Linked DNA regions of Homo sapiens: regions 1, 2 and 4 are each linked to region 3. The links come from fine-mapping of genetic effects on gene expression. A gene starts in region 3. Each other region holds a variant in brackets. All regions are shown on one strand. Distances are from middle to middle.

The links. PIP is the estimated chance that this variant, and not a neighbour inherited with it, causes the effect.
Region 1: its variant is fine-mapped to the expression of FRMD4B in aorta (GTEx, PIP 0.93).
Region 2: its variant is fine-mapped to the expression of FRMD4B in whole blood (TOPMed, PIP above 0.99).
Region 4: its variant is fine-mapped to the expression of FRMD4B in naive CD4 T cells (Schmiedel 2018, PIP 0.91).

The regions. Positions count from the first base shown.
Region 1 is chr3:69,357,271-69,365,522 of GRCh38, forward strand. All of the region lies in intron 1 of FRMD4B (FERM domain containing 4B), which reads right to left. Among named protein-coding and RNA genes, the nearest start is that of FRMD4B, 25 kb to the right of the region's middle. The variant T/C (reference allele first, on the strand shown) is at 2,295.
Region 2 is chr3:69,348,706-69,356,957 of GRCh38, forward strand. All of the region lies in intron 1 of FRMD4B (FERM domain containing 4B), which reads right to left. Among named protein-coding and RNA genes, the nearest start is that of FRMD4B, 33 kb to the right of the region's middle. The variant A/T (reference allele first, on the strand shown) is at 5,146.
Region 3 is chr3:69,381,753-69,390,004 of GRCh38, forward strand. It overlaps FRMD4B (FERM domain containing 4B), which reads right to left and starts at 4,336. Exons shown (of 23, transcript NM_015123.3): 1 at 4,076-4,336. The coding sequence starts at 4,237. RefSeq lists an enhancer at 3,803-4,413.
Region 4 is chr3:69,244,208-69,250,755 of GRCh38, forward strand. FRMD4B (FERM domain containing 4B) reads right to left here. Exons shown (of 23, transcript NM_015123.3): 6 at 5,836-5,892; 7 at 5,019-5,041. Among named protein-coding and RNA genes, the nearest start is that of LMOD3, 120 kb to the left of the region's middle. RefSeq lists an enhancer at 4,748-5,272. The variant T/C (reference allele first, on the strand shown) is at 4,573.

The DNA of each region.
Region 1 (8,252 bases), 24 kb before region 3:
ATGCTATATCCAACTTGAAACAAATGTTCTTCCAAATGCCTTCTGCCGTGCAGCCAGATACAAGGCAGGGCTTAACCTGGGATTCAGGAATGTAGACTTGGGGAGCCCTGTTTAGGAGTCCCGTTGAAAATGAAACTATATCCTGGAATAGGTCCAAATGAAATATGAGCTTATATGTGAAACTGTGCCTATAAAATACAAATTGTGACACAGTTGGATGATCACCTAACTGGTGAGCTTGTACATATGTATTGGTGACTTTGTGGAGGGTTTTATTGACTGTGAGGGTGGAATAAAGGAAATATGTCCACCAATTTAAGGAAAAATTTGTGGAAGCAGGATCCCAATTTTTGTCTTTAGGAGAAGCTTTGCGTTTTATCTCAAAACTATCACTTTCATCACAGAACATTTCACATACTGAATGAATGCCAGACGCACCATAAAATCACAACAGAGGCAATGTATTGCAGTTTTCCAAAATTCTGACAGCTGGGCATAGCACTAAACCATTTGTCATAAAGTAAGAGGACAAACTTGAAGACCAGCTCATCTCCTCCTAAATTTAGTGAGGTTTGCACTAAAGAAAAAATATTTCCTCATAACTTCTCATCCTTCTCTAATTCAGCCTCTAGAAACAATTCAGTTTCAGTTCAAATATTTCTTGAGCATCAAATACATGCAGAGGCCTTACAAGGAAGTCAAATATGAAAACACCATGGTTCTGACCTTCGAAAAATTTGCAGCCTGGACCTGGCATCTCTCAAAAAGAGAAGAGTAATCACTTTATTTGTCACCTCATAGTCAACTCTGCAATTGAGGAATTACACATTTCTTTCACACACATGCTGGTTTCTGTTTTTAATCTTTTATCAATCTGTATGTCAGAGCTCCTTGGATACCTGATGATTTTTCTTAAATTTGCATTCACTGCAGTAATTATTTTTTGAATGTCTATCAGGTATTGGATGTCAGAGCTGGGTGTGTGGCCTATGTAGGCCCACAGGATTCAGTGCTCAGAAGGGCCTCATGCTTGGTTTAGTGTTCTGCTGTCTCACAATTCTTAATCATTTTTGAACAAGGAATCCCACATTTTCATTTTGCATTGTGCTATGGTTTGAATGTCCCCACTAAAACTCATGTTAAAATTTGATTGCCATTTTCACAGTATTAAGAGGTGGGACTGGCCAGATCCGGGGGGCACATGCCTGTAATCCCAGCAGTTTGGGAAGCCAAAAAAAACAGATTGCTTGAGTTCAGGAGTTTGAGACCAGCCTGGGCAATATAGTGAAACTCCATCTCTACAAAATACACAAAAATTAGCCAAGTGTGGTGGCATGCGCCTATAGTCCCAGATACTCAGGAGGCTGAGGTAGGAGAATCACTTGAGCCTGGGAGGTTGAGGCTGCAGTGAGCCAAGACTCTGCCACTACACTTCAGCCTGGGTGACACAGTGAGACCCTGCCTCAAAAACAAACAAATAAACAAACAAAAAAAGAAGTGGGACCTTCAAGACATGATAATGGATTATTAATTCATTGTCACAGAAGTAGATGAGTTATCATGGAGGTGGGCTTCTAATAAAAGATAAGTTCAGCCCACATTTTTCCTGTTTCTTCCTGTGAACCTGTGCACCCTTCTGCCTTCAGCCATGGGATGACCCTGCCAGATGCCAGTGCCATGTTGTTGGACTTCCCAGCCTCCAGAACCATGAGCCAAATAAATCTGTTTTCTTTATAAATTACCCAGTCTGTGGTATTTGGCTATAGACACAGAAAAGATATGTAGAGTCTGGTAAATTATGTAGCTAGCTCTGCTGGGCATGGTGCTAAGTGGTGGGGGAACAGCAGTGAGCAGGAGAGGTATCCAGAGGGTGGCATGAAACAAAAAATAATTTAATTCATAAATGAGGTAATTTCAGACAAGAGTAAGACTTAGGAGGAAAATAAAGCAGGAGGACATGATAAAGAGGGGTGGAGAACGCTGTATGGGGAGAGTGAGCTCCTGGATTAAGACTGGAGGTCAGGAAAGAGCCAGCCACAGGTTAGTTGGTTTCAGGACCATTTCTGCCTTGTTCAGGGCTATAACACGTGGAACCTGGAAAGTTCTCAACTAATATTTTGAATGAATAGAACTTCTGTTTAAAAAGGAAAAGTACCAAATACAGAAAATTAATTCATAATTTAGTACAAACTGGGACTGACCGATAAGGAACATTTAAGTTTATTTAAGGTCTCCTTCAGGATCACATGTTTTAGCAGCTGGAGGGGGTGCACTATGTCCAGGAAAAACAACCC[T/C]GATGGAAAAGTTCATTACTCATATTCCCCTCTAGACAGAAAAAGAGGGAAAACTTTTGTGCTCGGCGAATTTTCTTGTTTTCTTAACCATAAATGGAAAAACAGAGATGAAAAGAGGTAGGGAGAGAAGCAGGCATGATAGGGGTTTCCTTTCTGTCTGTTTCACAGGTTGAAGGCCATGACTTTTGACTTGGTTTTACCATAAGGCACGTGCAGTTTTTTAGGTGACGCACATAAACTTTGTAAAATTGAGTCTCATCTCTGTGTTTGGAAAAATGAAGAGAAAAGGGTATTCAAAGTTCATTCTTGAAATCCATTTTACAAATGGGAAACTGAAGCACGGAGATGTCTGGTAGCATAAGTCTCCCCAGTTGGGGGTAGAAGAACAGGATTTGAACCCAGGGCCCATGCTCTTACAAATGGCCTTTCCATTTGGCCATTGTAGACAAGGTGGAATGCATCCAGGGGTTAACACTCAGGCATTCTGTTAGATTTCCTTCCTGTCTTTCTGCAGAACCTGGAGTTTTGTTTTCCCCTTTCTCTCTCCCTTTGTATTCCTTTAAAACCAAAACAAAAAAGTTTTTGTAGTGGAAAATTTCAAGTACACACAAAAAGTCAAAGACCAGTGTCATAACCACCTCCCATTTTTCCACCTAGTTTCAAGTTATCAACACCTGGCTAATATTGTTTCATTTATATTCTTGCCTACTTTCTGTCCTCCTATATGTATTATTTTGAAGCAAAACCAAGACTTAAGTAATTTCATCTGTAAATAATTCAATATAAAAGATAAGGACTCTTTTTTAAACATAACCCTAAATACTTAAAAAAGTTAACAGTAATTCCTTAATATCATCAGATCTCTAGTCTTCAAATATCCAATTATCTGATTAATGTCTTTTTTCCCCAAGTTTGTTTGAATCAAAATAAAAAAAAGCTCCACATTTTGCAACTGGTTGATATTTTCCTTAGGTCTCTGTTAACCTACAGGTTCCTGTTCCATCCATCTCTCTCTTTTTCTCTCCTCTCTCTCTCATTGCAATTCATTTGTTGAAGAAACTAGGCTGTTTATCCTGTAAATTCTCCTAGCACCTAAGTTTTGCTGATTGCATTCCCTTGGTGTCACTTAAATGTTCCTCTGTTTACCATGGTTCCTGTAGGTTGGTTGAGTCCCAAGGCTTTATCAGATTTCAGTTAGATCTTTTTTGGCAATACTATCTCATAGGTCGCCACTTGTGTTTTTTCATTAGAAGAGCCATTTCTTTTTGTGACATTAGCAGCTGCTAATGCTCAACAGCTATATCATTTAATTAATTAGAAGTGGCAGTATGATGGCATTCTAATTCTATTATCCCTTACTTACTAGTGAGAATATTTCTATAATGAGAGATTTTTTTCCTTATCTATTAATTGGTTACCCAGTAGTATAATTCATACAAGAAAGGCAGAGAAAATGTTTGACTCTTTATCTTTATTTGCCAGTTTCCAAAATAACGAGTTGGGTACTTTCAAGGGTGGTCAAAGTGCATTTTGTCATTATGAACATATGCATTTAAATATAATTTATGTGTTTCAATCCATTAAAGTTATTTTCTTTTTTTAAAATTTTCTTTACTGATATTCAGATTGGGCCATTTTGGTGAGTGAGAGCCTCTTCAAGCCAGTTTCCAAGTCCTTGTGACATGGTTTTAGTAGTATTTGTCAGCTTCCTTGCTACCAGTAGTATTTGTCAGCTTCCTTGCTACCTGGGATAAAAAGATGCTCATCTTGTGCATTTACTACTCAAAACCTGGGCAGTGTCTGTTACTGCTTTTTGTTTCATTTAGAAAATTACACTATAAATGATGCATAATAAAAATACATATTTTAGGTATTACAGCCATGTTATCCACATCCCCCCCAAGATATAAAACTTTTCCAGAAAGCTACCTCTGCCAATCTTTCCCTACCTCCCATAACAACCACTATTCAGATTTCTATCACAATAGATTAGTTTTTCCTGTTGTAGAACTTCATACAAATTGAATTATGGAGTATGTATTTTTTAATACCTGGCTTCTTTTACTGAGCAAAATGTTTTTGATATTCATTCATGGTGTTGCATGTATTAGCAATTCATTCATTTTCTGATCGCTGAGTAGTATCCATTGCATGAATATAGTATAGTTTATTTATCTCCTCTCTTGTTAATGGAAATCAGTTGTTCTCAGTTTGGGGGTATTAGAAGTTATAAGCTATGAATATTCTTTTACAAGCTGTGTGTGTATGCATGTGTGTGCACATGCATATGTTTTCATTTCTCTTGAATAAATGTGCATGAATAGAGCTAACAGATCATAGGATGAATGTACGTTTAACTGCCAAATAATTTCCTAAAAGGTCATACCATTTTACACTGCCAATATATGAGAGATCTGGTTATCCCACATCTTTGCCAAAATGTGGTATTATAGGTCTTCTTAATTTTAGTTATTTTAGTGACTGTGAAGTAGTAGAAGCATTTGTGTTTAAGTGACTTTTTGTTTGCACAGGTATAGGTTTAGGTGATAATTGTAGATTAATAATAACAAGCACTTATATAGTACTTCATATGTGCCATACTCTGTTCCTGTTTATTATAAATATAAACTCCACAATAACTTTGAGGTCGGGACTATTATTATTATCTCCATTTTACAGATGAGAACACTGAGGCATAGAGAGGTTAAATAACTTACATGAAATCACAGCCAGGAAGTAGCAGATGAAGGCTTTGAACCTACACAGTTTGGCTCCAAATTTCAGGCTCTTGACTTGTGTGCTCTTCTGCCTCTCACAATTGTTAATTGGAATCCTTTCCAGTTCTCTAGCATTTCACTGAGACACTGGTAAATATTTCTGGTTAAGACAACTATCACGAAGTCAGGAGCTCGAGACCAGCCTGACCAACATGGTAACACCCCATCTCTACTAAAAGTACAAAATTAGCTGGGCACGGTGGCGCATGCCTGTAATTCCAGCTACTCAGGAAGCTGAGGCAGGAGAATCGCTTGAAACTGGAAGGCGGAGGTTGCAGTGAGCCGGGATCGTGCCACTGCACTCCAGCCTGGGTGACAGAGTGAGACTCCATCTCAAAACAACAACAACAAAAAGCCAACCCCCCCCCCAAAAAAACAAACAAAAAACAAAAACAAACTATCATGTTAATTTAAAAATCCCATACTTTTTAAAATAAAGAACTGTGAATTTTAAACAATTTCTTTCTATTCCTGCCCATCTTATTCTGAACTTAAACATTTTCCTTATATCAGCACATCTCCAATTTTTATTATATGTTTCCTAAAAAGTTTTTCATTTTGAATACTTTTGTTGTTGTTGTTGGACAATTCTTCTATAAGTCCTGACCTTCAAGTCCTGAGCTTATATTGTATCAGAATGCTTTTTACAGTAAAAAAAAAAAAAACAAACAAAAAGTGAAAATAACTTTAATAATATGGATCTATATTCTCAGTATCTCCAGGTAGGGCAGTGCCAAGGTTGGTGAGGTCAACAGATTAGCAATATCGTAAAAGTCCCAGGCTTCTTCTATTTTTCCACCCGGCCCATTCTTCTTACGTAACATTCCCTCATGGTTGCAATATAGCTGCCATCCTTGAAGCTCTCACATCTCCACTCCAAAAAAAAGGATCACTTCTTTTTACCATGTTTTTTTTTTTTTTTTAAATAGAGATGGGTCTTGCCATGTTGCCCGGGCTGGTCTTGAACTCCTGAGCTCAAGTGATCCTCCCATCTTGACCTCCCAAAGTGTTGGGATCATAGGTATGAGCCTCTGCACCTGGCCTCCATGCCTTTTTTTTTTTTTTTGAGACGGAGTCTTGCTCTGTTGCCCAGGCTGGGGTGCAGTGGCACAATCTCAGCTCACTGCAAGCTCCGCCTCCTGGGTTCACGCCATTCTCCTGCCTCAGCCTCCCGAGTAGCTGGGACTACAGGCGCCTGCCACCACGCCTGGCTAATTTTTTGTATTTTTAGTAGAGACGGAATTTCACCATGTTAGCCAGGATGGTCTCAATCTCCTGACCTCGTGATCCGCCTGCCTTGGCCTCCCAAAGTGCTAGGATTACAGGCGTGAGCCACTGCACCTGGCCCAGCCATGCCTATTTTCAAGAACAGACAGCTTTTTAAGAAATGGCTCCCCATTGACCAGAGCTGGGTCCTATGTTTACCCTTAACCAATCCCTGGCAGAGGAATAAGGTCATCATGACTAGCTTCAACCACAGCTTCAAAACCAGTGTACTGAGGCAACAGGTGTACTGAGCTATTGGTCTTTTCAGGACTGGAGGCAGCCAGAGACAATTTGGTGATCACCTCCAGCCTGAGCAGCTTCTTCCATTTACTCCAGGTGCCACACAAACACTATCATTTTCTGTGTATTCTATGACATCAGAGAAAGTAGGGAAGCACTGGGTTAGAGACCAATCAATCAGTATTTACCCAAGTTATATGGGCAAGGGGGTGATATTGATCCCTGAACCAAATCAGGCCTCTCAGGATGAAAGAAGCAAAGAATGGATGTTTAAATCAGGCTTAGAAAATGAACACAAAACAAGAGAACCCACAGGGAGCAAAGTAACAAGTTATGTCACGCGACTATCTTGCCTGTCCCACTCACCTCAGTTACTGCCTTGATGATTCTGACTTCCAAACATCCTGTCCTTTTAGCTCAAACTCAGAAGACAGGAACATGCAAGTTTAGCCAAGCTGAACCAGGGGACAGACAGAGGACAAGCTGGCCCCTTGGTGGCCACGGCAGGAAGCATGCGCTGGGACCTGCCATTTTGCCATCTGCCTGGTGGGCACCTCCAGAAGGGAGACTGGGTGCTAATGGTATGCCAGTGGTGAGTGAGCAGCTAAAAAATATGACAAAAACATTCATTGGGAAACTTCCTGCAGCAATTCCAGTTTGCCTCTGAGTCAGCCTGGCTCTGGTTAAAGTCTATATACAAACAAATCTGTGGGTCAACCCATCTTCACCCTCAGGGCACTATCTCCAGAATAACCATGGCATTAATGGGATCAGCAGTTTCAATCATCTCCTGAGTAATCAGTTCTGGTGCCTCCCCAAATGAGACAAATGACAGTTTCATGGTCGCTCGTGGCTATGAAATCTCATCGAGACAATTCGACTCTGGTTAAATTATATTTAAGTTAATAAATATGAATTTAGATGGCCAAAGAAGCTCAAAAACCCCTGGGCATCTAAGACAAAAAAGAAAAAATAAATGGTGCAGCATTCTGTTCTCCTACCCCAAGCTTTCTCACTTGTTTTTTTAAAAAAATAAATAAAGGCCTTGGTGATTCCTTCTCAGTTCATCTAAATGAAGTTTAGGCCATTTACAGAAGAGATAAAACAAAATTGCTGAAATTCACTAAACAGTAAAGGAGGAAACCACAATATGAAACCGAATAGTATAGTGATTATAAAAAGCAATAACTATTCTCAGCCATTTCTAAAGCTTAAGATTTTAGTGCATAACAGAGAGGCTGTGTGAACATCTATCTTTATGGCACTTGGGTTTTAACCAGCAATGCTCTATATAAACCTATTTTAACTATACAAGGAAATTCCATATCACTCTGAGATGACAAATATTCTCTAGGAGACTAAAACCTGCTCTCAAGTCTGGCTCTAAAATTGTTCTCAAACCAATTTATACTGTGACAAAACACAGTATGTGTTTCCCCCAATGTTATCGGGCAAGAACAACTCCAGTATTCCAAGTATCATGGTCCTTAAGAAAGTTATGGAAATTGGACATCTCTACTAATAAATGAAGTAAAATAAAAACAAATAAAATGTACATTTTTGGCCAGCAGACTGGTATAAATCAAAGTTGCTAGCTAGAATGTGGACAAGAATGATTCTTATTCACTTGGTAGTAGCATAAATAGATACAACCTTTGTTTTTTTTCTTTTTTTT
Region 2 (8,252 bases), 33 kb before region 3:
GCATATAAACAGAACCAAAGACAAAAACCACATGCTTATCTCAATAGATGCAGAAAACGCCTTTGACAAAATTCAACAGCCCTTTATGCTAAAAACTCTCAATAAATTAGGTATTGATGGGATGTATCTCAAAATAATAAGAGCTATTTAGGACAAACCCACAGTCAATATCATACTGAATGGGCAAAAACTGGAAGCATTCCCCTTGACAACTGGGATGCCCTCTCTCACCACTCCTATTCAACATAGTGTTGGAAGTTCTGGCCAGGGCAATCAGGCAGGAGAAAGAAATAAAGGTATTCATTTAGGAAAAGAGGAAGTCAAATTGTCCCTGTTTGCATATGACATGATTGTATATTTAGAAAACCTCATTGTCTCAGCCTAAAATCTCCTTAAGCTGATAAGCAACTTCAGCAAAGTCTCAGGATACAAAATCAATGTGCTAAAATCACAAGCATTTTTATACACCAATAACAGACAAACAGAGAGCCAAATCATGAGTGAACTCCCATTCACAATTGCTTCAAAGGGAATAAAATACCTAGGAATCCAACTTACAAGGGATGTGAAAGACCTCTTCAAGGAGAACTACAAACCACTGCTCAATGAAATAAAAGAGGACACAAACAAATGGAAGAACATTCCATGCTCATGGATAGGAAGAATCAATATCGTGAAAATGGCCATACTGCCCAAGGTAATTTATAGATTCAAAGCCATTCCCATCAAGCTACCAATGACTTTCTTCACAGAATTGGAAAAAAATACTTTAAAGTTCATATAGAACCAAAAAAGAGCCCGCATTGCCAAGTCAATCCTAAGCCAAAAGAACGAAACTGGAGGCATCAAGCTACCTGACTTCAAACTATACTACAAGGCTACAGTAACCAAAAAAGCATGGTACTGGTACCAAAACAGAGATATAGACCAATGGAACAGAACAGAGCCCTCAGAAATAATATCACACATCTACAACCATCTGATCTTTGACAAACCTGAGAAAAACAAGCAATGGGGAAAGGATTCCCTATTTAATAAATGGTGCTGGGAAAACTGGCTAACCATATGTAGAAAGCTGAAATTGGATCCCTTCCTTACACCTTACACAAAAATTAATTCAAGGTGGATTAAAGACCTAAATGTTAGACCTAAAACCATAAAAACCCTAGAAGAAAACCTAGGCAATACCATTCAGGACATAGGCATGGGCAAGGACTTCATGTCTAAAACACCAAAAGCAATGGCAACAAAAGCCAAAATTGACAAATGGGGTCTAATTAAACTAAAGAGCTTCTGCACAGCAAAAAAACTATCATCAGAGTGAACAGGCAACCTATAGAATGGGAGAAAATTTTCACAACCTACTCATCTGACAAAGGGCTAATATCCAGAATCTACAATGAACTCCAACAAATTTACAAGAAAAAAACAAACAACCCCATGAAAAAGTGGGCAAAGGATATGAACAGACGCTTCTCAAAAGAAGACATTTATGCAACCAATAGACACATGAAAAAATGCTCATCATCACTGGCCATCAGAGAAATGCAAATCAAAATCACAATGAGATACCATCTCACACCAGTTAGAATGGCGATCATTAAAAAGTCAGGAAACAACAGGTGCTGGAGAGGATGTGGAGAAATAGGAACACTTTGACACTGTTGGTGGGACTGTAAACTAGTTCAACCATTGTGGAAGACAGTGTGGCGATTCCTCAGGGATCTAGCAGTAGAAATACCATTTGACCCAGCCATCCCATTACTGCGTATATACCCAAAGGATTATAAATCATGCTGCTTTAAAGACACATGAACATGTATGTTTACTGTGACACTATTCACAATAGCAAAGACTTGGAACCAATCCAAATGTCCAACAGTGATAGACTGGATTAAGAAAATGTGGCACATATACACCATGGAATACTGTGCAGCCATAAAGAAGAATGAGTTCATGTCCTTTGTAGGGACATGGATGGTGCTGGAAACTATCATTCTCAGCAAACTATCGCAAGGACAAATAACCAAACACTGCATGTTCTCACTCACAGGTGGGAATTGAACAATGAGAACACTTGGACACAGGAAGGGGAACAGCACACGCTGGGGCCTGCCTTGGGGTGTGGGGAGGGGGGAGGGGGGAGGGATAGCATTAGGAGATATACCTAATGTAAATGATGAGTTAATGGGTGCAGCACAGCAACATGGCACATGTATACATATGTAACAAACCTGCACATTGTGCACATGTACTCTAGAACTTAAAGTATAATAATAATAAAAAAAGAAAACCAAATGAGAAAATAAACCAATACAAGACAACAGAAGTGTGCATACCTTTACAGCCTGATCTACAAAAGCTTCCTTTAAGGAAAAAAAAAGCAACTGAAGTATACAGCAAGCCCAATACCTTCCTTTCTTAGATTGCTGTTATTGGAATAATAAATTGATTGTTTAACCTTGCCAAATCACATAAACATATATTAATGTATAGTTTACCTGTACTCAGGCTTACTTTTCCAGTTTAGGAAAATATTGCATTTAAAATTTTTTCTAGTTTTCCAACATTAAGCAAGAAAAAAGTCTTAATTGGAGCTTCACAGAATCTACCTCAGGGACAAACGTAAGTCTCATACTTGAATTATGATCCCGAGACAGGCCTCTGCTGAGAGCTCACTAGTATTTTCAGGTTGCCAAAATATTTTTGAAACAAAGAGAAAGTGTTTTAGTATGGTTTTACCTAGCACTATAGCTTTTTGTGATAAGAGACAAGACATGTAGTTCTTTTCCTGGGGTCTTTTGCACACCTGTGCACAGGCTTCTGCTAGCAATTGGAAACCATGCAGAACAGAAAGCAGAATCTCATTTGGATGCAGCTCCCACTTTTCTATTCCAAGATGCACGCACCCATGTAAAGAAACTCTTGCTTCATGAAATTCAGAGATGCTGGAAATTAGGCAAAATCATCCTCTGGCCCAGAAAAGGCAAAGGGTGGACAGAGCATAGATTCGGAACTCAGGAGATCCAGAATCCAGGCTGTGCCCTGCCCCTAACGGGATAGGAAGTCTTAGAAAAATTCCTCCTCTTCTCTGGATTTTAATCTCTTCAGTAACAGAATGAGGAGATTGGACAAAGTGACTTACAAGGTTTCTTCTGGTTTAAATGTTCCATGGCATAAATATATCTAACAATTCTGCTCAGCCAATAATATTTGTCCACCACCCATCACCCTGCCTCCTGATAGTTACTGGGAATTCTCTCCATGGGTGAGACATAGTACCTGTCTGCAGCAACCTCCATTCTAGTAGTAACAACTTCCCTGCATACTTCAAATGTAGGATCAAACACAGTGGAACACACAGAGTATGCTCTGGAGTGGGACTTGGTATATCTGGGAATATATTAGGCCCTCTGCTAAGAGCTGTAGTTTCTGACCCCTGAAAGAGCTGCATAACAAGATAGTCTTACTTCTCAGGATGTTCTATGGCCTGAATCTTCAGAACAGGATCATTTATAATGAGGCCTTAGGTCACCATAATGTCACTCTGAGAATCCAGGTCACAGGACTGCATTTGGATAAGATTATATTCCTTTTCACTCCTTCGGACATTAGATACCTTTAGATAGGACCGATTTAGAGACAATGGACTCATTTCTAAGGCTACACTATTATGTTGTTACATTATAGCAAAAGGGTACTATTCCAGTTCCTATTGTGATATATTTAATTTCTTTGATGTTTCTCTTCTCTACCCAATCCTGCCCACTTCCTCTACAGACTTCCTTCTATCCCCAGGAGTTTTGCAGTCTACTGGATGAGATAATTTCCTTTGTTTTTTACCCAGATATTCCTCCCCTCCACCATCAACATCTACCCATCAAGGAAGAAAAATGGCCACATGGAGTTGGACTTAATGAGTTTGCCATAACCACATTACAAGGCAGCAAAGAAAAAAAACCTTCCCTTTAATAAGGATGTAGGACTTCCTCTGACAAATCATAAAAGTTTTATTAATTAATTGGAAGCCGTCCCCAAAAATGGCATTTCCGAGGTTTCTATCTTGAACTGCTGAATTCTGATCACATAGAATCCTCACCACAAACTAGACTGGAGGACAAAATTCAATTTTCCTTCTTCTTTCTGGAGGCAAAGCAGGGACCCACATCAAAGGATCCTTTCAGATGGGCTGCTAATGAGCTCTAGGACACCACGGAATTTTTGTTGCCAAGTGTTCACAAAAACAGGGAAGGCCCCAAACACATCTTGCTGATGAAACGATGAACAATTATAAATCAAAAAGCATTTCTGTGTTGCTTACTGACACAGTTCCTGCCCTCTCTCTGTCTTTTCTACATCCATAAAGAAACTCCAGTATTTAAAATTTAAAAAAAAAAAGAAGAAGAAAAAAGGAGAGTGGTGGGAGCAGGGGAAAGGGTGATGAAGTGGAATTACATACTTCATATTTGCCAAAGTTCTAAAGCAAAATAAGAAATCAGCCTTTCACGACCTTTAAAGGAGCAAAGATAGCATTAAAACAATGACAGGAAAACCCTCCAGACGATGGGCGTCTTTAAGGACCATCTTCACTTGGTATCAAACAGAGCACATCCAACTCCGTTTTGGAAAAAGTAATTCCTTCACAAGAGTGAAGATAAACATTTCTTGTAATTTCCTTTTCTGCAAGTTGGGTTCTGCAATATTAGTTCTTAGATTAGTCCACCCCCAGTACAATATTAAAATCTGCCCAAGATTTTGCTATGAAATGCCAGTCAAAGCTGAAGAAGCACCGTTACACAGTCTGCAACTGGAAGATCATAAAAAAAAATCATTCTTACCTCCGAACCACCATGACCTCGGCTCATTTAAAGGAACTGAAGAGAGTGCTTAAGACAAAAGACACACGTATTAAGCACTTGTGCGGTGTGTGTGTGTGTGCGCGCGCGTGTGTGTGCGCGCATGTGCTTGCATTTTCTCCAACTACAAGCCAGTGGAAGTAGGAACTTAAAAACTCCCGACGCCTTCCGCTGCCATATAATCTCAAGGAAATGACCATACTGTTTGTTTCTTTGATTAGAAACAAAAGCCTTTCAATATGAGTCACGGGAGAAATGGGAAAATAAAAACAACTAAAAAACTTCTGCT[A/T]TTTCTTTTGGCCACTCAAACGCTTTCTTTACAACACATTTAAAACATATGATGAAATGTCATCTACTGTTTTCTAAACTTCCTTGATAATGCAAGCTTTAGGTTGGGTAATTATTCAGAGATAGGCGATGCCATGTATGAATCTAAACTTCTATGCATGTTCTGGATGAGGCTGGGAATTTAATGAATATAAATAAAAACAATATTTAACTCAACTTTGCTACTCACAGCCAGTTGATGTTAACAGCTTTTCCACTCAGAAAGAAACTTAGAATTCCATGGAACAACCTTAGTAAAATCAATCAGAGATGCCAGCCACAACAGAAAATCTTGGCAGAATGACGTGGTCTCAGAAAAGATTCATTTCACTATTTGCATTTAATGAAATCATTACTATTGAAGTCATTCAGTGAATAGGAAATAATCAAAATACATTATGCTTGAAGGCAGAGAGAAAAACATATAGAATACTGGAAAAATAATAAATTTACTTTTTTTAAAAAAAGAGAATGACTAAGTAAAAGTTTGTGACAGGGTATCATGCTTCTCCCTCCTGAAAAAAAGAACAGTCTGGAATTTTGCTCAGGAGTATGGTATGGTTAAGAATATAACCATAAGATTAAATCTCTAAGACTCTCTAGAGTCAGAGAAACCTCGTGTTTTACAGTTGTATATATCCTTGGGAAAGTTACTTGATCTTTCTGAGAATTGGTTCCCTCCTTTGTAAAATGGAGATAAAAATCCTGATCTCCTTCAGGAGTGCTGGGGAAATTAAAAGAGATAGTTCATGCAAAGCTCAAAGAATTTGCCTGGGAGATACCACAGGTATCTAAATATAGGGTGGGGTACCTCCCTTTACCCCCACAAAATGTTAATCCCTCAGAAACCGGGGAGTGGCTTTATCTTCAGATCCTTCTAAAGACTCTAATTACTATGACCACAATATACTGTCTGGGGAAGACATGGCAGCCTGTAACAACTTCAGTCAATGCTAAGTTTGGATGCAAATAGAAGTCACTTGATGATATCAGTAGAAAAGGTGGCAAAAAGTTTAATACATATTTAGTAATTATTTGTGAGCACGTGACCTCCCAATTGGACGGGTTGGATGTTAGAAGAAACAAGTTACTTAAACATTATTTCATGCACATATACTTGTAGGATAAATGGAAAAAGGAAAAAAAAAAAAGCTGGGCAATGATATTCCCAGAAAAGCATCATATATGGAGATTGAAAAAGTGCTATATAGCTCAAACAACTTGGGCAGAAGTGGAGATGCTGCGCTGTGATAAAAGGATGACTCAAAGAGGACTTTTGTTCCAGTGCCAGCACACACATGCACATGAAGAAGCTGAATAAAATTATCCTATCAAGAGGGAGAGCACAAGGCAGAAATCACTCCAGTTATTAATCTGCATAACAAGTGTTATGAGCACTCCTAATATTAGGAGTAAATTTTCTAATATTTCATATACATTTCTAAAATTTTATATAGGTTGACCCAAAACATTTGCCTGAGTCTTCTTGTTTGGAAGGTGGGGAATTATTGTATTACTTTATTTGACAGAACCTTCTATTTGTTAATATATAACAGTAAAAACTCAATACATGGTACCTTTTCTTACTGGGTTGGAGAGTCGACTGAGAGAACTAGTGGGACATTTCTGATTGTATGGTAAAAATGTTTTCACTGTTGAAGGACAATCGGAATGTTGATAGCCAGTTTCAGCAGCAAGTTGGGCTAGATTAGGCAAGGCTAAAACCAGGAGGCCAGGGCAGCTTGAGGGCCAGATGAAGGTTGACAGACCAAATTAGGGGGGAGGCTGGGTAAGCTCAGGTTATGGTGTGAGAACACATAGAGATGGAGTCTACCAGGAGTATTAAAATTAGGAGGCCGGGCACAGTGTCTCACACCTGTAATCTCAGCACTTTGGGAGGCTGAGGTTGGCAGATCACCTGAGGTAAGGGGTTTGAGACCAGCCTGGCCAACATGGCGTAACCCCATCTCTACTACAAATACAAAAATTAGCCAGGTGTGGTGGCCGGCACCTGTATTCCCAGCTACTCGGGAGGCTGAAGCAGGAGAATTGCTTCAACCTGGGAGCCGGAGGTTGCAGTGAGCTGAGATCACACCACTGCACTCCAGCCTGGGTGACAGAGCAAGCAAGATTCCATCTCAAAAAAGAAAAAAAATTAGGAAACAGGATCCCCGCTTTTCTTTGGGGACACCATCCAAATAACTGGGGGTAGGGGGGAACCCCATATCCCCATATAAAGAAGATGAATATGTGATTCAAGACTGACCAATAAAATCACTCTACCCCCATGTGATGGTTAATACTTAGTGTCAACTTGATTGGATTGAAGGATGCCAAGTATTGATCCTGGGTGTGCCTCTGAGGGTATTGCCAAAGGAGATTAACATTTAAGTCAGTGGGCTGGGAAAGGCAGACCCACCCGTGATGTGGGTGGGCACCATCTGATCAGCTGCCGCTGTGGCCAGAATATAAAGCAGGCAGAAAAATGTGAAAAGACAAGACTGGCCTAGCCTCCCAGCCTACATCTTTCTCTCGTGCTGGATGCTTCCTGACCTGGAATATCAGACTCCAAGTTCTTCAGTTTGGGGACTCGGACTGGCTCTCCTTGCTCCTCAGCCTGCAGACGGCCTATTGTGGGACCTTGTTATCATGTGAGTTAATACTTAATAAACTCCCCTTTATATATAGATATATATATACACACACACATACATATATACACACACGTATATATACATATATATAATATATATACATATATATATAATATCCTATTAACTCTGTCCCTTTAGAGAACCCTTACTAATACACCCCATACCCATTAGTCATAGGGATCAGAGAAGAAGTATCTTTGTTTTTGTTTGTTCTGGAGTTACAAAGTTGCTTGGATGAAAATCTGGGGCTACCAGGAAACCTCATGCCAGACAGAAGAGTTGGAGAGAGACATACTCCAATGTCACTGTCTGAATTATGAAATGCCATTGAACCTGAAGTCATTCCCTGGCCTTTTCAGTTACTGAGTCTATAATTTCCGTTTCTGCTCAAGCTGGTTCTGATTTTTAAACAAAA
Region 3 (8,252 bases):
CTTGAAAAATAGCTAATATTTTTATGTAAAGAGCACTAGATTTGATATTCTAATGATGCAGTGAACATTGTTGGTTGCATTTCAGCCAAACATTTTGCCTTTCCTCCCTGGCAGCTCTGTGGTCTGAGTAGGGCCAACCTCAATCCTAGGTTCAGAAATGGGTCCCTTCCCCTCTAGCCTCAGCAAATCAATGCAATCCAGTGTTTCTTAACCTTTTAATTCATTGTTATCTGCTTAAGGAGCCTTTTTAGATTTTTGTTTGTTTGTCACCCCTCCTATTTTATTTCATTTTATTTATTTATTTTGAGACAGAGTCTCACTCTGTTGCCCAGGTTGGAGTGCAGTGGTGTGATCATGGCTTACTGCAAACTCCATCTCCCAGGTTTAAGTGATTCTCATGCCTCAGCCTCCCGAGTAGCTAGGATTACAGGCATGTGCCACCATGCCTGGCTAATTTTTGTATTTTTAGTAGAGATGGCGTTTTGCCATGTTGGCCAGGCTGGTCTCGAACTCGTAAGCTCAAGTGATCCACTCGCCTCAGCCTCCCAAAGTGCTGGGATTACAGGCATGAATCACCACACTCAGCTACTTTTTGTATTTTTAGTAGAGACGGGGTCTTGCCATGTTGGCCACGCTGGTCTTGAACTCCTGACCTCAAGTGATCTGCTCACCTTGGCCTCCCAAAGTGCTGGGATTAGAGGTGTGAGCCACTGCACCCAGCCCAATCCCTCCCATTTTAATGTCACAGATATGCTGTATTTCTGTTTATATATTGCATGTATATTCGTGCTTTATAAATAAAAGTAGTGAATTTTTTTCCCACCCCCCTCCTCCAAAACAATTTTTGCCTCCTTTGGGCCATTTCACTCTCATTGAGAATGCATAAATTGTCATCCCATACTCTGTGCCAATCAGTGCATGGCATCAGGAGTGGGTACAGACCCTAAATTGGAGTTCCAGCATGTAAACTGGGACTTTTTTTTTTTTTTTTTTGATAGTTGGAGGATATGAGAAATTCTTTCTTTCTGGATGTGTGGATATAAGGCCTGAAACTGCTGTGATTATCTGCTATTGTGAGGGAAGAAACCAGCTGAAGATAAAGCCAACACATCAGCAAGACCAGGTCTGAAAGCATGGTACCCTGATCAAACAATACCTAAAGTTCATTCTACTGCTAGACTTTTCAGCTGTGACAAAAGTCATTTCTTTTTACTCTGTAGGCAAGTTTGAATTGGGTTTTCTATTATAATAAAAAAAATCCTAACTCATGGAAAAGATAACATTTATTGGATGCTTTCTAAACTCCAGGCAGCGTGCTAAATATCTCACGTCAATTAATTCTTTTATCAATCTCTGTGATTAGTACTATTAATTTCTCATTTTATAAATGATGAAGCTGAAGTATAGTAAGATTAACTTACCCACGGTCATACATAGGCAAAGACTGGATTAACTCCCTTGTCTATTTAACTTGCAGTTACTGTCTTTTAGTTCTACACAATTAAGTCACTACTTTTTCACTTAATATTTGAAAAGCATTAAAAAATGATCTTCCTTTGCAAAGGATTATGTTGCACAATTAAGAATATTCAAAGGCTGAAAATATTTTTGAAAATCTTATTTTTGCAAAAGCACAGGAAATATTAAACTTAGAGATCATTTTCTTCTGATTCTGTATTCATAAAAGCCTTTGTTATTTATTTTCATTGATACATATTAGATGTACATAGTTCGGGGGTACATGTGATAATGTGACACATTCATATAATCAAAGCAGGGTTATTGGGATAGCCAATGCTTTAAATATTTTAATTAATTAATTTTTTAGAGGAGGTCTCCCTCTGTCACTTAGGCTGAAGTGCAGTGGGACAATTATGGCTCACTGCAGCATTGAACTCCTGGGCTCAAGTGATCCTCCTGCCTCAACGTCTTGAGCAGAGAGAACCACAGGTTCATGACGCTATACCTGGCTGATTTTTAAATTTTTTGTAGAGATGGGGTCTCACTATGTTGCTCAGACTGGTCTTGAACTCCTGGGCTCAAGTGATCCTCTCACTTCAGCCTCCCAAAATGTTGGGATTACAGGCATGAGCCATGGTGCCCAACCGTTATCTTTTCTTCGTGCTAGAAACATTCAAATTATTCTCTTCTAGTTATTTTGAAATGTACAATTGATTAAAGTTAAAAATAAGGAGTGGGGACTTATTTTTTTTTTATTTTTTATTTTTTTAAGAGATGGGTCTCACTATGTTGCCCGGGCTGGCCTCAAACTCCTGGGCTCAAGGGATCTTCCTGCCTCAGCCTTCTGAGTAGCTGGGATTATAGACACACAGCACACTGCCTGACTACCACCATTATTTTAGATGTTCTTATCAATTATGATATGGTATTGGCTCAGTCACCATCCATTTTAGAGAAAAGAAAAAAATACATATATTTTAGTAGCTCAGTGTCTCAAATTGCTATTCTGCATAAAAATTATCAGTCAACCTTATAAAGAATCCATAAGGTCTCAGGTTTCTGGAATCTTTATTTTTGAATTGGTCAGTAACAGTATTACAGATAAGCCATAAATCCTCTGAATCCTTGGGGAGTGAGGCACAGAGTCACTCTGGTTGGCTACAATATTTGCGTTCCCTTTTTGAAAGTTTCTCAAACACTAAAAAGGAAAAACAAAATTACATAAGGGGCACTTATTCTACAGACCAAACTGAACAGGGATTTCCCAAGAGAGGAAAAAAAAGGCTTGAAAGACAGACACACTTCTGGCTCCAAAAAGCCAGAGAGCTATGTAATGTGGCCAGATGGGATATATCCACAATTCCCTAATACTCTCAAACTCCCACATGCTGCCCTGGTTCCCAACCTGCCTTTCAGATTCCATTTCAAAATGCAAGATATCACAGATATGTTATACAAAGCAGAAGCAGTGAAAGCACAAGTTCAAATGTTCCTCATATTTTAACAAGGGTGACAAGGGGACGCTGACTCTTTAGACTTCCACAGGCTAACCTTAGGTGCTGGCCTTTTCATTTTGCCTGATTGATGGAAGATTATGGTTTGTCAAAATCAAGTGCTTGATCATGTATGAGACACAATATAATAAGACATAAATTCTAGACATATTAGGAACAGGGTCAAATGGGGGGAAATCCAGGAACTGCAACAAAGCTATTCCACATCACAGGAAAGAAAATATGATATTATCTTTCCACAGTAGACACCAAGTATATTTCTAAACAATGCAGATTTTTAAAAATCTCAAATATATTAACAACCAAAGCACAGAACTTTTAAATTCATAAATTACTGTCTAAAAAAAAAAAAAGAAATCCAGGCAAACTGCAGTACCAGAGAGGATGAATGGTCTCCTAGTTGAGCAAAGTTGCTGCATTTTTTGCCTGCAGGATGGGACCGAGCAGAGAAATAAAGGGGCTGTGTTGTGTGACAGGGAGTAAATCCTAACATGAGCATTCCAACGTGTAGCCGGGCCACCCCTCCCTTCCCCAGCCTGTCATCCTCCTGCAAAGTGTTCACAATTTGCTGTCCTTCCTTCCAAAAGCCAGTAGACACAGAATCAGCTTTTCCTGGCTCTGCCTTACAAGTTGGGGCTGCCTGATGGAAAACTGAAAATCCAACGGAAGGATAAAAATCCACCAAGGCCCCCTCTGCCAGCAAATTGGTGTGAAACCGTTGCTTCAGAAGCAGCCACTCCCACCCCCAATGAAATTAAAAAGAAGGACTCATTTGAATGTCTAAGTGGCTTTCTGAAGACCCTCTGTTGCAAAGCAACAGCCTCCCTAGTCAAGCGCCCGCCAGTACACCATTGCTCTGTAACAGATGTCTGCAAACGCTGGGACTATCTCGCAAGTGCCCCCCATGCCCGATTTGAAAAATTCACAAGCTCTGTCAAGCAATAATTACCTAGAGCTGCTGAGCGTTTGACCCAAGGGCCAAGCAGTCTGCTAGGAGTTTAAGAAGAGCTGGGGGGAATAAAATCATACAGGTGGAGCCTGCTTCCCACGAGTGCCCGGCATCCTGCTGGGGCCCTCGGGTGCCGCGCGCTCCAGCTCACCTGGTACACGTCCTGCAGCCCGCACCACGTCCGCAGCACCTGGTGGCAAGCCCGCAGCCTCTCCGTGTACCATCTCCGCAGCGTGGACACGGTCAAGTTCCATACGAAGCGGCTGCCGCTGAACAGCAGGTCCTCCACGCCACACATGAACACCGAAGCCATGCCTCCTCCTTCGCTCTGAACCCGGGCGTCCCGGCTCTCGTACGTGCAGCCCCGACCCCAGCGGCCTGCCCGCCTGGGCTCCCGACGCCGGCTTCTGCTGGCAGCCGGGGGGTCAAGCCTGCCACCAAACTCGTCTTTCACCGTGCGTCCTGGCCAGGCTCCGGCGGCATGCCCTGGGATTGGGTGCCCGCCAGCCAACGGCTGCGACTGGCACACAGAAGCCCAGTGTCCACCCCCGCCCGCTCGCAGCGCCGAGCAAGCTGTGCTAAGCTCCACCAAGCTGGCCCTCGATGCTCCCGGGGCACGGGAAGCCCTGGCCGGCGAGGACTCCCCCTGGCGCTTCCCCAGGGCGCGGGGCAGGGACGGAAGCGGAGCAACTCTTTGCAGGCAGAGAGGGGAGCTGCATTTCAGCACACTTGGCTTCCACGTCTTGCGCGCGCGCGAACACACACACACACAGACACACACCCCCCACACCGGACGAGTGGTCTCCTAATCTGCCTCGGGGAACACCTTACTCATCTTGCTCTGTTCACACTGATAAAACACCTCTGGGCAGCCACAGATGCAGAAGAGAGAGAGAGAAAAAAAAAAATCTCCAAGGCATCCCTTTGGACCCTACTCCTGGGGGAATAGCCACGAATGTTTCCTTGGTTCTGCTGGAAGCAGGAGATGAAGGCAACAGTCTCAAAGCAACAGGCGGCCCTAGAACCTGCCTTTGCTCCTAACTTGAGGGTCTCAGAGAAAATGACAGCCTCCTGTGGTTGCCAGCAGGAAGGCAGGTTTCCTCACACCAAGATGCTGCTAATACCAATGCAGCAGTCAGGGAGAAAAACAGAGTTCTTGGTCCCTTGTAAATAGCTTGCCGTTACTAGTGCTGGGAAACAGAAGCCCATAAGAGAATCGGTGGTTTAGTTCTGGAAAATTCAGCCTCTGGACATGTCTAACCTCACCTGCAAGCACCAACCTGCATGGGTAGTTTATTCTCCCCTCAAAACCAAAGGAAACTGTTCCACCACTCATGAAGTCACTAGATAATTAATCTTATTTATTTATTTATTAAAGTTTTCCCTCGGGAATTGATGCTGATTGTTGGAAACATTTGGAAAAGGGAGCTCAAGGAGTCTCGCCTACCACCAGTCTCTGTCTTCCTTTATTTATTTTTGAGACAAGGTCTGTTGCCCAGGCTGGAGAGCAGTGACTCAATCATAGCTCACAGCTGCCTTGAACTCCTGGGATGAAGTGATCCATCTTCCCACCTCAGCCACGGGGACTACAGGTGCTAAGTTTATTATCATTATTTTTTTTGTAGAGATGGGGTCTCACTATGTCGCCCAGGCTGGTTTCAAATGCCTGGGCTCAAGCAATCTTCCAGCCTCAGCCTCCCAAAGTGCTAGCGTTACAGACATGACCCATTGTGCCCAGCCTCCATTTTCCCTTAGAATGTATGAAGATTTCTCATAGCAAAAGTGCTGTAGCAAATTTCAGGATGGAGTTTTTTCCTGAATCCATCTGTAAGTCAATTGTCTGTATTTTCTTGGCTGTTTCACATCTGGGTTGTTATCTATGCTATTAAGTGGCACCAAAAGGAAAGGTAAGGCACCAAAGCTTTTCTCCTGAACTAGCCCAGAAGACTCCAGAACAGATTATCGACAAGTAAATCAGCTTGATTTCAGGTATCAAATGTGCTTTTATAATCTTAATTCAGGTGAAACTCAATCAGTCAAAAGACGAAGAACACAAAATCTGTCCTCAAAGTGCCTGTTGTTTTCAGTGACTGTAATCAGAAAACTTTTAAATGAGATTTCTTTCGTTAATAAAATTGCCCAAGAGTTTTTGTTGAATTAGTTAATAGGACACAAGACTTGGTCCAAGATTTGCAAACCTTTCTTCACAATAAGTCTTCTCTATGTGCCATCAGTATTAGTATTGATGGTTTTTTTTTCAAGATGATGGTAACGATGAATCTGAATATAATAGATTTTACTGAATCAAAAGAAAATGAACTTAGCTTGAAAAAGAACTGTCATCATGCTGAATGGAAAACTACTGAACTTCAAAAATGCCCTATTAGTACGAGCAAATGGTGGTGGTACTTTTTTTTTTTAAACGATGCAGTTCGACTGTGTTCTCGGAAATGTCAGGCAGCCAAGGGAATACCAGAATAAAACCTACAACAGGTCAATTACCTCTGTCTCATGACACCATCCTCTCAGAAGAGAGGCTCTAGAAACACTCTGGCTGTTAGCTATCTGTGCGTAGGTCTAATGTCAGCAGTCACTTTCAAATTCCATCATTTTCATTCAAGGTTTCCAAAGTCAGGGCAATTTTTTAGAAGATAGGATGTAGTATAATAGGGGCTCTCAAAGTGTGGTCACTGGGCCAGCAGCTTTAGCATCACCTGGGAATTTGCTAGAGATGCAAGCTCTCAGGCAGCCCTGGAATCAGAAATTGTTGGGGGGTGAGATCAGCGATCAGAGCTTTCAGTTGGCCTCTGGAGGATTCCGACTCATGCTAAAATTAGAGAACTACAATAGTGATAGTATGGTGATTAGGAGCTAAATCTTCTAAAAGAGACCCACCCAACTTCAGATCTCCTCTCCTCAGGACCCGTGAGACCCCATATAAGCTCCTTAAGTCAACAAAGTCTCAATGTCCTCATGTGTACAATGTATTATCAGTATTCACTACAAAAAGTTTGGGGAAAATTAAGTAAAATATTCTGTATAAGGTCTTTAGCACGGTGTCTGGTGAAGGGTAAGCATCCAAAGAAAACTAATCACCATAACCCCCCGAATCAAGAATTGCTTCAGTTTTTTGTAGTCAGATAAAACAGTATAAGTAAAATGTGGGTTTTTAAAATGATAGATTTAGTGAGTATAAGTGCAGTGTTGTTATATGGATATATTGCATTGTGGCGAAGTCTGGGCTTTGAGTGTAGCCATCACAAGAATAGTGTACATTGTACCTATTAAGTTATTTCTCATCCTTCATCCCCTCCCACCCTCTGACCCTCCCCAGTCTCCATTGTCTCTTAGTCTACTTTTTTTTTTTTTTTTTTTGAAACGTAGTCTCCCTCTGTCGCCCAGGCTGGAGTGCAGTGGCACCATCTCAGTTCACTGCAACCTCCGCCTCCCGGGTTCAAGTGATTCTCCTGCTTCAGCCTCCCGAGTAGCTGGAATTACAAGTGCACAACACCACGCCAGGCTAATTTTTGTATTTTTACTAGAGATGGGGTTTCAGCATGTTGGCCAGCTGGTCTCGAACTCCTGAACTCGTGATCCTCCCCCCTCGGCCTCCCAAGGTGCTGGGATTACAGGCGTGAGCCACTGTGCCAAGCCTTCTTAGTCCACTCTCTATGTCCCTGTGTACATATTATAAAATGTGTTTTTAAATTTCAACTAGTTACCTACATGTGCTTTCCTATGACTTTCTGTTTGCTGAAGGTGAAAGTTTGTGGCAACTTGTTTTCAGGGAGCAGTTCTGTTGCTCTTTCAAGTTCCCAAAAAGCTTTTTGAGCTTGATCTTCCCCACTAGAGGCAACTTGTCCCGTGGACTCAGAGAAGCTGGGTGCAAGACAGAAGACATCTTATTTCTACTGACATAAACACTGATGCTTTTTTTCTTATCCAAATGGCTTTCCTCTTTTGTAGAAGAAGTTCGAAGGTCAAGACTGAGTGATTTTAGAGGGAAGGAAATACAACTTCCTCCACTCCAGGGACTGCAGTGGGTGGCAACTGAACCCAGATGTGCAGAAGTGGAGAAAAGTGCTACCCAAGTATGGCATCATCCTTAAAATGGACTAGCCACATGGGACTAACCAGATCCCAGACACACACCCTTGAAGCTAGTCTAAAATTTTCTGTGGAAAAGGAGCTAAATCAAGCTAGCTTCAACATTGTCTTGCTTTTTCTTTCTTTCTTTTTTTTTTTAATTTAAGAAGAGGATTTTCTTTCCTCCTCAGCACAGAGTTCCCTGCAATACACTGTAATTTCCTGCAGCTCTCTCTGGAGGC
Region 4 (6,548 bases), 140 kb before region 3:
TGGGAAAGGAAAGGGGAAATCCTCAGACAGCATGCAAGAGAGAATGGAGCTGTAATTCAAAGGGAGACAATGGAAGAGGAGCTGGTTTGGAGGCTGGGCTGTTGGTGAGGTCAGCTTCGGAAATGCTGAATTCAAGAAAGAGGTGGATATTCACAAGGAGTGGACCAGAGCAGCCTTAAGAATTAGGTGGTCAGTCATTGTTTTTACTGAAAAAGCCACTTTGCCTAGGAAGGTATTTGGGGACATATTTTGGTCAATGTTTGTTTGTTTATCATGTTTTTTGAGACACAGTCTCAATGCCTGTAGTCCCAGCTGCTTGGGAGGTTGAAGCAGGAGAATCTCTTGAACCCAGGAGGTGGAGGTTGCAGTGAGCCAAGATGGCACCATTGCACTTCAGCCTGGGCGACAGAGCGAGACTCTGTTTAAACAAAAATCCCAGCATTTTGGGAGGCTGACGTGGGCGGATCACTGAGGTCAAGAGTCTGAGACCAGCCTGGACAACATGGTGAAAACTTGTCTCTACTAAAAATACAAAAATTAGCCGGGCATGGTTGTATGTGCCTGTAATCCCAGTTACTTGGGAGGCTGAGGCAGGAGAACTGCTTGAACCCAGGAGGTGGAGGTTGCAATGAGCTGCACTCCAGTCTGGATAACAGAGCAAGACTAAAAATAAATACACACAGATGTTCATCACAGCATTATTTATATTAGCTTTATGGGGAAAAAAAGCTAATATAAATAAGGCCATGATGAACATCTTTTTTCCCATTATTTATATGGGAAACAAGTAATATTTGTAACAATAGGGGAGTCCATCATGTCCATCAATTTGGTAAAATAAGATGGATTACAGGAACTGTTTTAAATACTTTACAAATGCAATATTAATTCATTTAATCCTCACAGCAATCCTATGGAGTGTGTATTATAATTGTAAGTCCCATTTTACAGATGAGGAAACTGAGGCTTGGAGATTTTAAGTAATTTGTTCAAGATTACACAGGTAATAAGTAGCCAAGCTGGCATTTGAATCAGGCTGTCTGGTTCCACAGTCTTTGCTCTAACCACTACAACATTGCCTCATGGTATTTTATTTTGCCTGACTTTCTTTGTGTGTGTGTGTGTGTGTGTGTGTGTGTGTGTGTGTTTTTAGACAGAGTCTTGCTCTGTTGCCCAGGCTGGAGTGCAGTGGAACGATCTCTAGCTCAGTGCAAACCTCCACCTCCACCTCCAGGTTCAAGCGATTCTTGTGTCTCAGCCTCCTCAGGAGCTGTTATTACAGATGTGTGCTGCCATGCACAGATAACTTTTGTATTTTTAGTAGAGACAAGGTTTTGCCATGTTGGCCAGGCTAGTCTCAAACTCCTGGCCTCGAGTGATCCGCCTATCTCGGCCTCCTAAAATGCTGGGATTACAGAAGTGAGCCATTGCACCTGGCCTTGGCTGATTTTCTTTTCTTTTTTTTTTTTTTTTTGTGACAGAGTCCCACTCTGTCATCCAGGATGGAGTGCAGTGGCACCACCTTGGCTCACTGCAACCTCCACCTCCTGGGTTCAAGCAATTATCTCGCTTCAGCCTTCCAAGTAGCTGGGACTACAGGCGTCTGCGAACGTGCCAGGCTAATTTGTTTTTTTTTTTTTTTTTTTTTTGAGACAGTTTCACTCTTGTTGCCCAGGCTGGAGTGCAATGGTGTGATCTCGGCTCACCACAACCTCTGCCTCCTGGGTTCAAGAGATTCTCCTTCCTCAGCCTCCCAAGTAGCTGGGATTACAGGCATGTGCCACCATGCCCAGCTAATTTTGTATTTTTAGTAGAAACAGGGTTTCTCCATGTTGGCCAGGCTGGTCTCGAATTCCCGACCTCAGGTGATCCACCTGCCTCGGCCTCCCAAAGTGCTGGGATTATAGGCGTGAGCCACTGTGCTCGGCACCCGGCGCCTGATTTTCTCAGAAGAGTTTTGTAACAAGGCAGGGTGCGATGGCTTGCACCTGTAATCTCGGCGCTTTGGGAGGCCAACATAGGCAGATCAGCTGGGCCCAGGAATTTGAGACCAGCCTGGGTAACATGGTGAATCCCTGTTTCTACAAAAAATACAAAAATTAGCCAGGTGTGATGGTGTGTACCTGTAGTCCCAGCCACTCAGGAGGCTGAGATGAAAGAACTGATTGAGCCAGGAGGTGGAGGTTATAGTGAACTAAGATCATGCCACTGCACACCAGCCTGGGTGAGAGAACAATGCTCTATCTCAAAAATAAACAAAAACAAAATAAAACAAAAGAAAAACAAAGAGGAGTTTTAGAACAAAACTTTGGAGGAAAAACATATCCTCTCTATTCAGGGGAGAAGATCAGATAGGGAGAGCATGGTAATTTGCAAAATGCTCCCACATGTCCTGAAAACCAACCTGCAAAGCCATTGTTTTGATTAACCCCAATTTACAGATGAGGGAACCGAGGCTCAGACAGGATAAGTGGCCACTCAGAGGGATGTTGCCAGTCTGCGTGATTTCCAGTCCCACGCTCTCTCCACTACTTAGTGTAGTTTGGACAATTTCAAAACAGTGTGCGCCACTTCAACCTCGTGATCACTCAGGAAAACCACCAGGAACAAGCTCGAGTGAAGGCAAAGGTCTGGACTGGGCTTGCCCAGAATTAACTCGCCAACCTTGATGTCCTAGGGCTCAAATGTTTGAACAACTGAAGGACTGTCCCTTTTAGGCCTTCCTTTGCCTCAGGCAAGGGATCTTCCCTAAGGAAGGTTTGTGAAATTACCCTTTCTTTTTCTATTCTCCACCTCCCCCATAACTATAGGTTATTACAGCTTCTTCAGACCAACCTTAGTCTCAAAAGTCTCATCAGAGGTAGATAAGAGACCAGATAGGATGATAGTAATAATGAGGATAATAATAACTAAATTAATAATAATAGCCCAAGGGTGTAGATTACTTGCTATAAGCCAGATGTTGCCCTGGGCAACGTTTACATACATTTGATTCTCATGACAGTTTTATGGGAAAGGTACCATTTTACCGATGAGGAAACTGAGGCTCAGAGGGTGTCAGTCACAGCCTTGACTGGGGCTAAGTGGGGAAGGTGGGTTAGCAATCCATTGAGTGTGAGCTTTTGGGCCCTGAAACCCTCATTTACAAATTGACTTTAGAATCACCTCCCGTATGATTTCTTATCCAGGGTTGTTTTTTAAAAATCACCCCCATAAATGACTGTGTTCCTTGCATATCTGATATTCCCAGGAAACGTGGCTTTTCTGGAGAAGACAACAGTAGAGACACAGCAGCTTTTTTCTGAGTCTCACTCCGTCACCCAGGCTGGAGTGCAGTGGCGCGATCTTGGCTCACTGCAACCTTCGCCTCCCAGGTTCAAGCAATTCTCCTGCCTTAGCCTCCTGAGTAGCTGGGATTACAGGTGCCTGCCACCATGCCCAGCTAATTTTCTTTTTTTTGAGACGGAGTCTCGCTCTTTTGCCCAGGCCGGACTGCAGTGGCACTATCTCGGCTCACTGCAAGCTCCACCTCCCGGGTTCACGCCATTCTCCTGCCACAGCTTCCCAAGTAGCTGGGACTACAGGCACCCGCCACCGCACCCAGCTAATTTTTTTGTATTTTTAATAGAGACAGGGTTTCACCGTGTTAGTCAAGATGGTCTCGATCTCCTGACCTTGTGATCTGCCCGCCTCAGCCTCTCAAAGTGCTGGGATTACAGGCGTGAGCCACCGTGCCCGGCCACCCAGCTAATTTTTATATTTGTAGTAGAGACAGGGTTTCACCATGTTGGCCACGCTGGTCTGGAACTCCTGGCCTCAAGTGATCCTCCCTCCTCGGCCTCCCAAAGTGCTGGGATTACAGGCGTGAGCCACCATGCCCGGCCTCAGGCGTGAGCCTTTAATGATACTAATGGTCTGTAAACTACCTTATACTCTTGTTTTTTTTTTTAAACTCCTGCCCCTTTCTTTCCATTAAAAACAACTGGTGTTTGATTTTCATGATTTCTTCAAATTTCTTAACCTAGAAAAATGTAAATACACACACACACACACAAATATATATATATAGAGAGAGCACAAAACAGAACTGGTGGGAGATTGTGGTGAGGAATCATGGTGTTTTAAGTGGCATCCTTGAACATTCTACCAAAGCCGAATGGGAAGATGAGGAGAGTGTTGGGAGTTTCCGAACTGAAGTACAACTCCGTAACTGGAAGTTTTCAAGGTTGGAAGGCATTATTTTGTTAGTCCGTTAAGGGGCACATTATTCAAAGACTTGGCTGGGAATGAGTGCTAGGTGATCTGTAAATAATCTACGAGTAACGTCTACCAGGAGTCGAACATTAACATCGTAGAGGCCAGGCTTTCAAAGGGGTCATTGGCCTACAAAGGGAAGCATTGCCTCCACCCTTTAACTGTTTCTCTACAACTCCAACGATTGCATTAAAAGGACAGAATGGAGCAGGTAGAGGGTGAATTCAAATATAAACACCCTCTGTGGATGTGGCCAGTGAGGCAGTTAGAACCATTAAGTGTCTCCGCAGCAACAATACAACTGTTAGGTCAAGTGTA[T/C]GAAGGGTGAGGCCCCTTCGGGGCAGCTGTGAAAGAAAGCCCCTATTAATCCCTTAACTAAGCAGCTGATGGATTTAATCTTTTTGTGCATACATTATAACTCTTCGAACACAAGATTATTGTAAGGTTTTTTTTTATCAGCATAAGCTATCAAAGCTTTTTATAGATTTCTTCATCTCACTAATTAACAGATGACAGAAAACAGAACTTTGGAGAGCTTCTGGTTCCATCGCTGTCATTCTGGCTTCAAAAACTGTAAGAAAGCATCATTCCCTGATTCATTCACAAAAAGAATAGGTCTCTATTTGAAGAGCGAAGAGATCTCAGTCTCCTGCCTTACAGATCTACTTTCCTTTGATTTTGTATCCATTGTTATTTAAAATAACCACATAAAATGATTCTTTAGGGTTATTTTGCATAGTAATATCAGAAAAGAAAAGCATTACCTGGTATAATCTCCCTTGGCTTCCTAAAAACAACAAACAAAAACAGAGTTGATCAATATGTATCTTTGTTAAGCTAAATGAGTTTTATCTTGATTACTTTCCCCTCTTAAAGTTCCTGAGTTTTGTTTTGAAGAGTGTTTCTCAGGAATGCTCTCCCTATAGGCATAAGAAGAATTAGGCATTGATAAGAAAACCCTGACTGTCCTGTTAGGAATATTCCTTATTCTTAACAAAAGAAACATATGTATGTGAAAAAGCACAGATAATTATTTCTCACTGTACGTTTTTAAGATCACATGATAAATGCTTTTCATTCAAGTGGCACACTTTTTAGACTGGAGGAAGACCTTTTAAACCACAATACAGGTAAACCAACACATACTATTTGTTTTCCCTTTACTTTTTAAACCAGCATGGAAACAGACTAATGCCTTTAAGAACTAAAGGGCTCTTTTACTGGACCACAAGAAAATGTATACAAAAGTTACTAAATTTAAATGAAAATTACAGCTGTTGTAACAACTGCTGCCTCCCAAATTCAAGTATCCCAGAGCTCTCTTCCAGGAATATGGGTTTAATTCTTCTCCTTCAGAGCAGTCTAAATTTCATTTTTCTTTGAGACTCACAATATCACATTGTAGCTCATGCAAACTATTCTAAAGCAGAAGACGGTGGCGCACATTTTTCATCGGCAAACAACTAACTGGCTTAAAAATCCAACAAACACTGGCCCATGCAAAAGTTTCAGAGTTGCAGGCAGTTAACAAAAACGAACAAACACAAGGGAGCTGCTAAGAGGCAGTTTGTCCAATCTTACCTGTAAAATAAACGCTGCTAACTTGAAGATGGTTTCGCTCTCTACTTCGATTTGCCCCTGTTGATGGAAAAGGAAAGCATCATTGAACATGGGGCTGTCCTAGATTGTAGCAAATGGCTCTGAAGTTGAGGAAGCTGTCACAGCTTGGCACCTCCAGTTTACGATCAAATGCAGATCATACCATTGCAGGGGAAAGTGGGGGGTGTGGAGAGACTCATTGAGGGTTAAGGCGAAACCACTGTGTGTGCGTGTGTGTGTGTGTGTGTGTGTGTGTGTCTATTTTAAATAGCTGTGGTGACGGATTATGTGTAGAGAGCAGTATTCAGGAAGAAACGGGAATGACTTTGAGGCTAAACATTCAGAAAACTTCTAAATGAAAAATTTTTATCTCTGCAAGTTCATTTTTAAGCACTCTGCAGAATTTCCTAGATTCATTTGTTGAGTGTTTTCCTGGGATAATTTTTTTCCCCTGTGTTACAGCATGGTTATTTCAGTATACACACAATGTAAATATTATTAAAAATATAAATTCACTTCTGTGTCAATGACACATTGTTGAGTTCATATTTGTACTATTACAGATAAAATGTGAGGCCTTAAAAATCAGTTACAGCAAATGCTTTGAAGACTAAAATTCTGTTGATTTATATTGAAGTTCGAGGAACTCTAATTTATCAGTTTTCCTTTTTTTTTTTTTTTTTTATCATTCAAAA